Regions from separate parts of the Homo sapiens genome. Here region 1 is linked to region 2. The links come from fine-mapping of genetic effects on gene expression. A gene starts in region 2. The other region holds a variant in brackets. All regions are shown on one strand. Distances are between the middles of the regions.

Region 1 (5,387 bases), 400 kb after region 2:
GTTCTGCACATCTAATATACTTTAGTTAATAAAATGTATCGTATACTTGAAATTTGTTAAGAGAATAGATCTTATTGTCACCACATACAAAAAAGGCAACTGTAGGAAGTTATGGATATGTAAATTAGCTTGATTGTGGTATTCATTTCACAATGTTTATGTATGTTGAATCATCAGATTGTACACCTTAAACTTAATATTTTATTTGTGAGTTATACCTCAACAAAGCTGGAAAAAAAAGAAAGTATGAAAATATTTCCCAAAATGGATGTATTATTTTATATTTCTATCAGTAATATAGAAGAGTTCCAGCTGCTCTACATCCTTGTCAATACTTGGTATTGTCAGTCTTTTTAATTTTATCCATATGGATTTTTTTGTAGTGAAGTGTCTACACAAATATTTTACCCATTTAAAATTTTTTTTTCCTTTTTTTGAGTTATGAGTTCTTTATATATTCTGGATATAAGTCTTTGTCAGATATATTTTATGGATATTTTCTCCTAGTTTCTGCTTGCGTCTTCATTTTTTGAAGTGCCTTTTAATTTTGATGAAATTCAATTTATTAATTTTTTAATGGTTTGTGCTTTCATGTCCTATCTTAGAAATTTTACCTGCTCCAATATTGCAAAGATAGTTTTCAGTATGTAAGAAGTTATAGTCTTTATTTTTATGTTTAAATATATGGTCTACAAAATATAAAATATATTTATTAAATGTAAAATACAAATGCAAAATATAGTCATTAAAGACGTGTATTGTGCATACTACGACTGATACCTATGAGGGGGAGAGACAACCAGGCAAATCTATTTGGGGAAGAACAATTATTTATTTACTTGAATAACACCCTATCCTTTGATTTAACACTTAGAGTAATGACTTAAGACTTAAAACTATGATAAGAAATGTAAGATACATGAAATTCAAAAATAAAATTGAAAAACACATACAGTCAATTTTAAGTTAATTTTTATATAAGGTATAAAGTAAGGGTTGATGTTCCATTTTTTCATATGAATATTCAATTGCTCTAACACTACTTGTTGAAAAGACTATCACTTCTTCCATTGAATTACCCTGACACATTTGTGAGAGATCAATTAAGCATACATGGATGAGTCTATTTCTGTTCTCACCCATTGATCTAGGTTTCTGTCCTTAAACCAACACCACACTGTGTTGAGTAATCGAGCTTCCCAGCGGGTCTTGAAATCCAGAAGCATTAGTCCCTGAATGTGTTCTTTTTCAACATTATTTTTGCTTTTCTAGGTCCTTTATATTTCTATATACATATTAGCATGAACTTGTCAATTGAGACAAATCTTTTTATACAGAAAGAGAGTATATGGAATCTATAGGTTAATTTGTGGAGAATTGACATCTTAAAAATACTGAATTTTCTAATACATGAAAAGATTTACCTCTACATTTATTTAGGTCTTTTTAAAATTTTTTCACCAATGTTTCATTTTCAGTATATAGGTCTTGCACACATGTTCTGTTAAATCTAATCATGCTTTTTGGTGCTATTGTAAATATTATTGTATTTTAATTTAATTTCCAGTTTTTTGTTGTTAGGGAATAATATAGTTTATTTCTTTTTATATTGCCCTCATGTCCTGAGACCTGGTTCACTCACATATTACTTCTAACAGTTGTTTTGTAAATTCATTTGGATTTTCTCTATAGATTATCATGTCATCCTCGAACAAAGGCACTTTTACTTCTATCTTTCCAATCTTTATGCCCTTTATTTCTTTTTTCTTGCCTTATAACAGAGTTCATGACCTTTAGTACAATGCTGAATAAATGAGGAGACTAGGCAGCCTTTTGTTTTCAACCAATCATAAGGGCAAATCATTCCTTGTTGTTATTGTTTTTAACCATTAAATATAATGTTAGCTAGAAGATTTATGTAATGACCTTTGTCAGTTTGAGGATGTTCCCTTCTATTTCTAGTTTTTATTAGAGTTTTAGTCATGAATGGGTATTGAAGATGTCTGAATCTATTGACATGATTAGGTGGGGTTTGCCCTCCCTTTCCCTGTTAATATAGTAAATAAATTGATTGATTTTCAAATGTAAAATCCATGTAGTATTCTTGGGATATAAACCACTTTTTCATGATCTATTATTACTCTTATATATTGCTGGAATTGATTTGCTAATATTTTATTAAGAATATTTGGACCTATGTTCATGAGAGATATTTTTCTAGAGTCTTTCTTGTGATTTCTTTGCTGGTTTTTGTATCAGGTTAAGCCTGGCTTCATGAAATGGCTTTAGAAGTGTTCCTTTCTCCTCTGTTTTCTGGAAGTCTGGAGAGAATTGTTTCTTAATGCTTGATAGAATTCAACTGTGAAGCTATCTAGAATGGAGTTGTCTTTGTGGAAAGTTTTTAATGAAAAATTCAATTTTTATAACAAAGTTTTCAAATTTATTGGCATAAAATTATGCATAATATTTTCTTATTATCTTTTTAATATCTGTAGGATCTGTAACAATGGCTCTTCTTTTCATTTTCCGTACTGAAAATTTGTCTCTTTACCTTGATAATCCTAATGAGGGCTTTATTGTATTGATCTTTTTAAAGAACAAGCTTACAGTTTAAATGATTTTCTCTATTGTTTGTCTATTTTGCATTACATTGATTCCCACTCTTCTTTTTTTTTTGAGACGGAGTCTCGCTCTGTTGCCCAGGCTGGAGTGCAGTGGCGCAATCTCGGCTCACTGCAAGCACCGCCTCCCAGGTTCATGCCATTCTCCTGCCTCAGCCTCCCGAGTAGCTGGGACTACAGGCACCCACGTTGACGCCCGGCTAATTTTTTTGTAATTTTAGTAGAAACGGGGTTTCACCGTGTTAGCCAGGATTACCTCGATCTCCTGACCTCATGATGCACCCGCCCTTCGGCCTCCCAAAGTGCTGGGATTACAGGCGTGAGCCACTGCGCCCGGCTAATTCCCACTCTTCTGTTTGTTTCTTTTTTTCTATTCACTTTGTTTTAATTTGTTCTTATTTTTTCTAGCTTCTCAAGATACAAACTTAAATTACTGATTAAAAATCTTTTTTCTGCTATAAAACAAGCATTTTTTTTACCATAAATTTTGTCAGACATATGATACATTTTATTTTCCTTATGAAGTTTTAAATATTTCCTTATTTATCTTGTGACTCATGACTTAGAAGGTATTATTTAATTTCCAAATATTTTGGTGTTTCACAAATACTTTTCTGATACTGATTTCTAGTTTAATTGTATTTTGGACAGAAAACACAC[C/T]TTATATGATTTTAGTTTTTTGTTAAGGTTTTTTTATAGTCTAGCACATGTGCACTTGAGAAGAATGCATATTCTGCTATTTTGGGGTTAGTATTCCATTAATGTTCATGAAATTAAAGGACACAACTATCCTTTGGTTGGATAGTTTTTTCACATTTTTTATATTCTTATTTGCTGCCTTCTTGTTGAAGAATTACTGAAAGAATTACGTCGATATCTCCCATTAGAATTGTGGATTTGTTTACTGTTCTTATTAATGGCAAAAGCTGCGATTACTTTTGCACCAACCCAATAGTTTGTAAGATTTTTGCTTCATTTATTTTGAAACTATGTTTTAGGTGTATAGACATTTATGATTGTTACATCTTCTTGATATATTGAGCATTTTATGATTTTCAAATGTTCCTCTGTATTCCTGATAATATTCTATGACCAGTCTGGCATGGTGGCACATGCCTGTAATTCCAACCACTCAGGAGGCAGAGGCAGGAGAATCATTGAGCTTAGGAGTTTGAGATCAGCCTGGGCAACATAGTGAGATACCCATCTCTTAAAAATATTCTTTGATGCAAAGTCTGTTTTATCTGATACTAATCTAGCTACCCCAGCTGTCTTCTGATCAGTGTTTGCATGGTAAATCTTTTTCTATCTATTCACTTTTCATATGTAGGTACGTCTGTCTTTAAAATCTGTTTCTTGTAGAACACATGTAGTTTAATCTTGATTTCTTATAATGTCTAACAATCATTGCATTTTTAAATTCTAATCTTTAGTTTGGTGGGGGGGTTGGGGGTCGGCAACTATCGCTGTTAAGGGTCAGACAGTAAATCTTACAGTCTGTGTTACAACTATTCACTTCTACCATTGTAGTGTGAAAGCAGACATAGGTAATAAATAAATGGGTGTGACTGTGTTCCAATAGAACTTTATCTACTAACACAGGAGGTGGGTCATAAGTTTGGTGACTTCTTGTTTAGATCATTTATATTTAATGTAATTATCAATATCGTTGGGTTTAAGCCTACCATCTTGCTGTTTTTCTGTTTGTCCTGTGTGTTTTTTTTCCGTTTAATCCTCCTTTCATGCCTTCTTTTAGAATAACCATGGGTTTTATTGTATTCCACTTAATCTCTAATAAATAGCTTATTAGCTATACTTCTTTGCTCTGTTTAATTAGTGGTTGCTTTATGATTTACAAAATGCGTTTTTAATTTATCATAATACATTGCCAAATAATATTGCACCATTTTATGTATAATGTAAGACCCTTACAACAGTTTACCTCCATTGTCCCATTCCATTCTTTGTGCTGTTTTTTTTAATACTTTCTACTTCTTTATATGTTATAAATCCCACAATATATGGTTATTATTTTTGTTTCAAAGAGCCAATTATCTTTTTAAAAAATTTTAAAACAAGCAAAATTATTTTGTATTTACCCACATATTTACCATTATCTGGCATACTTCCTTTCTTTGTATAGATCTCAGTTTCCATCTATTATAAATATGTGTGTATATACATGTAATGTCATCATGTTTCTTCTCATTATGTTTTCCTTTAAAGTTCTTGCATATATTTATAATAGCTACTTGAAAATTATTTTCTGCTAATTCCATAATTTTTGTTATTTCTGGGTCTGTTTCTTTGGCTTTGCCTTCCTCCTGTTTGAATCACATTCTCCTCCTTTTCCACATTGGTAGTAATTTCTCATTGGATGTTGTACACTGTGAATGTTTCTTTGTTGAGAGCCTGGATTTTGATTTATTTTTTTAAAGGGTGTCAAGTAACTTGTAGATCTGCTTGATCCTTTTGATGTTTGCTTTTGAGCTTTGTTTGGGTAAATCCAGAATATTCTTTATTCTAGAGCTTGCTCAGCCCTCCTGCAAAAGCATGATTCTTCTTGGGTCTCTACTGAATGGCCTGGTGATTGAAATGCAGTAGTTCTGCTTACAGCTCCACAGTAGATTTTTTGCCTGGCTTTATGTAATTTTATCCTATACATATGCAGATCAATATTCAGCAACAGATTTCCTCCTTCCTCTCTTGTTCTCTGGTCCTGCATATTCCAGCTATGTCAGCCTTCCCAGTTTCTGATCTCTCTTC
Region 2 (5,387 bases):
AAGTCCTCAAGTTGCCCCAAATTAAGTCACTGATAATAAATTCCAGCATATGGTGCATAGGCTCAAGAATGGAGCCTTCCAATATCTGCAAGTTAGGCTTGCTAATCAGGCCCAAAGCTGTAAGAGCCATAAAACAGACTTTTTCACATCCTAACAACAGCAGAAAAAAATAAGTTGAATCCCTTCTCCCCAAAAATCATTAGAGAATTACTTGATGAGGGTTCTCCCACTGCTAGGATAACCATGAGTATGGATTCTTGTCATCATTTCACAATAGAATCACTGTCTGATTCTGAAGAGTTAGAAGAAATAATTTCATTATTTTTACCTACTGATACTGCCCACTAACAGATCTGACAACTCTCAAATTCATAAATAATTGTGATCTTTAACATCCATATTTTAAATATGGATCTAAATGTTATCATATATACTTTCAAGAACTAATGATGCACTAATGTTTTTCTTCCCTGTTCCTTATACTTTCACATTGTAAAATATGGCACTGAGAAATTCTCTTGTTGTCTAAAGTCAATCAGTGTTATACTCAAGGGATGACTTTTTTTTTTTTTTTGAGACAGAGTCTTTGTTGCCCAGGTTAGAGTGCAGTGGCACAATCTCGGCTTACAGCAACCTTCGCCTCCCAGGGTCAAGTGATTCTTGTGCCTCAGCCTCCTGAGTAGCTGGGACCACTGGTGCACACCATCACGCCTGGCTAATTTTTGTATTTTCAGTAGAGACGGGGTTTCATAATGTTGGCTAGGCTGGTCTCGAACTCCTGATCTCAAGTGATCAGCCACCTCACCCAACCAAGAATAACAAGATATTATCTTTAACATTTTACATATTAAAAGATAAAGTGAACTTAAATGACCACTTAAATTAATACATTTGGCATTCAGCATCAGCACATTGAAATGTGTGAAAATTGTTGATTAACTAGAACAATGGGTTAACTATAAGATGGTACTAAAGAGGTTTAATAAAGTTGAAACTATCAGTCAATTTTGAAGCACTTGTCCGTTTAGGCTGCTTATTGTTCTTTTTTTTTTTTTTTTTTTTTTTTTTGAGACAGGGTCTCACTCTGTCACCCAGGCTGGAGTGCAGTGGCGCAATCTCAGCTCACTGCAGCCTCTGCCTCCCAGGTTCAAGCGGTTCTCCTGCCTCAGTCTCCCGAGTAGCTGGGATTACACCACCACACCTGGCTAATTTTTGTATTTTTGGTATAGACGGGTTTTCGCCATGTTGGCCAGGCTGGTGTCAACTCCTGATCTCAAGTGATCTGCCAGCCTCGGCCTCCCAAAGTGCTATTACAGGCGTGAGCCACCACGCCTGGCTTAGGCTGCTTAAATATTCTTTCTTAGGTATCCTTGGTTTTGGAAAAAAAAGAATAACAGAAAACTAAAAATTCCCAGTGGCAGTCTCTGTATCACTGGAATTTAACTTTTTGTTTGTTTGTTTTTTGAGATGGAGTCTCGCTCTGTTGCCTAGGATGGCGTGCAGTGGCGTGATCTCGGATCACTGCAAGCTCCGCCTCCCGGGTTCACGCCATTCTCCTGCCTCAGCCTCCTGAGTAACTGGGACTACAGGCGCCCGCCACCACGCCTGGCTAACTTTTTGTATTTTTATAGAGACGGGGTTTCACTATGTTAGCCAGGATGGTCTTGATCTCTTGACCTTGTGATCACCCGCCTTGGCCTCCCAAACTGCTGGGATTACAGGGGTGAGCCACCACGCGCGGCTGCAATTTAACTGTTTTTAATAGCTTCTAATTTGTATAAATCACACGTAGCAGTTAATAGAACTGTTCCAAATTCCCATCGGAGTAGCTGGTAGAGGAATTATCTCTGAGAATGCTGCTTCATTCTTTAGGAGGCAACACGGACTCTTGGAAAGAGAGGCAGGCCTTGCGTTGAAACACTGCCTCAATCACTAGCTATGTGATCTTGGAAAAGTTACTTAAACTCTGAGAATTAATATTTACTCCACATACTTGAAGTGAGATTGTGAGATAAAGAACACGACAATTAGTTGCTTTTCTTCTTTTCCCTCTTCTCCACGAGTAACAATCCATTTTAATCTCCATTTTAGTCTAGATCATTTGCTCAGGTTAAGCTTACAGGTCCCATCACTGTATCACTAAACATTACAAAGTTCCACAGTAAGAGACAATCTCGCTAACACAGGCATCATTATATGAGACTGATGAGCTTCTAGAAAGTCTGATGACTACATCATAATGGGAAGGATAAGGCGTTCCTCAAAATGGATGCCATAAGTAAAGTAAGCGCAATTCAATTGAACCCGAATGTTTATTGAGCATTTCCTCAGCTCATTCAAGAAGTCATTGTTAACCATATATTAAGGCATCCAAGAAACAAAAAGCGCATTTGTTGTAGTAAAAAACAAATAAAATAAAGCTGAAAAGATTTCAAATAAAAGGTTTCCAGAAAATAGGCATTAAAAAAATTGTCCTAAAAAAAAAAGTGCTGCTGTTTTTTCCTAAATAATGATCTAATTAAATCACCAAACTTACTCAAAATGGCTGTGTACAAAAAATGAGAGTTGACATTAGATCTCGGACATATTTCCCACATACACAGTGATTTGAAGTAAACTGCAGTTTGTTTTGAATAAATCTAAGTTATATGTTGTATTACTATGTATTGCTAAATTCTCTGCACTACTGTCATGCAATACTAATTTTACAGGGGAAGCTGAAGCCTGATTAACTTCGTCAGTGCCACAGGAAGAAACAAGAGACAGAAGGAAAAAGCACTTTGGATGCCCGCTGTAATTCACAGAGATCTCCACGGTAGGAGCGGGACGTCAGCTTCTGCGGCTAAAATCTCGTGACTGAAGCAGCACAGATCAGAAAGAACGATTTACCAGGTATCTATTTCGTTCTAGAAAGGGGCCCATAAACCTAAAAAGCATCCAGGAGAAATCGCTTCCTCCCGCTTGGCGGCAAAGGACAGAGCAGGAGGGCGAGCACTGAGTGTTTAAGAAGGATGAGGCCTACATGGCAAAGGCTTCGATAAGTAGGGAATGCAAGGAAACAGAAAAGGGGGAATCAGGTTCGCAAAAGTTTACCTTTTAGCGCCAGCAGGTGCTCCTGTTTAGGGGGATTCACTTCCATTTTGACCGGCACTTTTGACCCACAGCCTACGGGGGCTGGACAGGTTCAACTTGCCCCGGAAGGAAACGGAAAACCTCGCGTTTGGCAAAACCAAAAGTCAAACGCACTCTCAACCTCTCTCTGGTGGTGGTACCTTAAATTCTCCTACTGTGTCCTTTACAAACTGGCTTCTTTTCAACAAGTCCATTTCTTCTATCTTAGAAACGTAGGCATAAAATACTTTGTTTTCCATCTGCAATCACACATCGCGACTGCAGGAAAAGAAACCACCCCTAGGTAACAATACGCGGCCTCCCAAAGGCCAACGTTGCCGGAGTTTTTTTTTTAAAAAAAAAAAAAAAAAAAAAAAAGAGAGAGAGAGAGAGTGGCATGCTGGGATTTGTAGTTTATACAAAAACCGCGTTGCATGCAGGGAGATGCCCGTACCCCCTCACCGCCCTCAGTTCACGCCCTGGCTGGTTTGGATTCGAGAGGAAAAATCATTAAAGGATCTGGAGTTTTCACCCCAAAACTTTAATCGTTTTGTCCCTTCTTTTTTTTTCTTGTCTTTCCTCCAGCAGCTGCAGACTACATAATGAAAAATAACAAAAGTGCCCATGCGCGAGGCTGTGCAACTAACCACCCGACGATTGCGGGGAGGAGGAGTAAGAGTCGGCTAAGCGGCGCCCAGTGTCCTACTGCGCCTGTGCGCCGGTGGCGTGCGCAGAGGCCTCTGGGTAGGTGGCTCAACCCCGCCTCTCAGTTGAGGACTCTGAAGGCTGTTTCTGTGGCGCTTCCCCTGCGAGGATGGCTACCCTGGTTGTAAACAAGCTCGGAGCGGGAGTAGACAGTGGCCGGCAGGGCAGCCGGGGGACAGCTGTAGTGAAGGTGAGGGACCTTGCGTGCTCTATTCTCCACCATCGGCCTCCCTTCGGTTCATCCTGGAGACCTGGCGGCATCGCCGCGGCCCAGGCTTCGATAGGTGGGATGCGCGGCCTCTGGGCCCCTTTTGGCATTACAAGTCTCGTCCTGTCCTCTGCATCCTTTCTCTCCTATGGCCTGAAATTGCCTGGTCTTCTGCTCATGACATGTCATCATCGGGACATTTGTGAAAAGGAGCTTGCGGGCCAGTGGCAGTGACCTAGACCGGTCTTTTCTCCAGGTCCTCTGCTTTTAGTTAAACTCAACAGACATTAATTAGCTTAGTATTATAAATTGAGTCATCATCATCGTAACTACGTACTAAGTTAGGTGTTTTAGCTCGTTAATATCTACTTATGAAGTAGATGTGAATTCCCATTTTACAGGGAGGAAACCCAGGTTTAGGTAAACAGTGTGTGGCAGAGCCCCGGGTTGACCGGCTTTAAAGTCTGTACTTTTCGCTCTTGTACTGCGTCTGTAATCAGACATCTGTTATTGGGTGAGCTGCCCCCTCCCCTGTTAGTAGTACAGTCTATTAACTCTTTGCACAAGTCTGCAGCATCGTCATAGCTGGGCATTAACGATAGAGTTTATGAATTTTCTTATGCTTGAAGTTTGAGATTCTACCATGTATACATGCTCCAGAATCAATTTGCTAAAAAATCATTTGAAATATGTGGCACTCATTTTTCCCTTCCACTGTTGTGCACGGAAAGATATGGAGGGGAGAACTGATCCCATTGGTTTATAGAGTAACCTTCAGGAGCATCTCTAATCTAAGAGATTGATAATTCTCATTCCTGGCTACATATTAGGATCACTGAGGAGTTTTAGTACACTACTGATGCACTCCTCCTCCAGTTCTGATGAGGTTGACATCAGTATATTTTAGGAATTACCAGAAGTTATTTTAATGTGCAACCAGGGTTATGAATTACTGATCAAGGTAATATATGAAGTTTTTTTCACATCTTGAAAAGTAGACACCTATGATTATTCAGGTAATGTTGGTTTTATATGACAGCAAATGAGACATTTCTTCCCACAATTTAGTATCAGTGAATATTGGTGGTTGTTGATTCAGATGACCTTTAGGTACTAATGAAGTTATTCTACAGGTACACGGCATATCTGATATGCAAAGGAGCCCTCATTATTAGGCATGTTGTGTGACTGAGATTTTATTTATTGAATTGTGCTTTTGCTAAGTAGAGAATACTTGAAGAGCAGTTTGTGAATTAACTTGAAGTTTAAGTTTTATTTCATAATTGGAATGGGTATCATTGCAGTATCTATTTTTTTGTTACCCTGTTTGCCTTACAGTCTCAAAAGTGTACCAAAGCCTGAT

Which allele goes with the higher level. Positions count from the first base shown, and alleles are read on the strand shown. Sizes are in standard deviations (SD) of each study's normalised expression.
For the expression in adrenal gland of the gene that starts at base 3,173 in region 2, T is the low allele of the variant in region 1 and C is the other (large effect, 0.84 SD a copy in GTEx).

The links. PIP is the estimated chance that this variant, and not a neighbour inherited with it, causes the effect.
Region 1: its variant is the best candidate, but not a certain one, in a credible set for the expression of SHLD3 in adrenal gland (GTEx, PIP 0.61).

The regions. Positions count from the first base shown.
Region 1 is chr5:65,218,036-65,223,422 of GRCh38, reverse strand. All of the region lies in intron 18 of ADAMTS6 (ADAM metallopeptidase with thrombospondin type 1 motif 6), which reads left to right. Among named protein-coding and RNA genes, the nearest start is that of ADAMTS6, 260 kb to the left of the region's middle. The variant C/T (reference allele first, on the strand shown) is at 3,282.
Region 2 is chr5:65,622,813-65,628,199 of GRCh38, reverse strand. It overlaps SHLD3 (shieldin complex subunit 3), which reads right to left and starts at 3,173. Exons shown (of 2, transcript NM_001365341.2): 1 at 3,094-3,173. TRIM23 (tripartite motif containing 23) reads left to right here and starts at 3,867. Exons shown (of 11, transcript NM_001656.4): 1 at 3,867-4,006. The coding sequence starts at 3,926. TRAPPC13 (trafficking protein particle complex subunit 13) reads right to left here and starts at 3,173. Exons shown (of 13, transcript NM_024941.4): 1 at 3,094-3,173. The coding sequence starts at 3,139. RefSeq lists enhancers at 3,658-3,737, 3,868-4,197.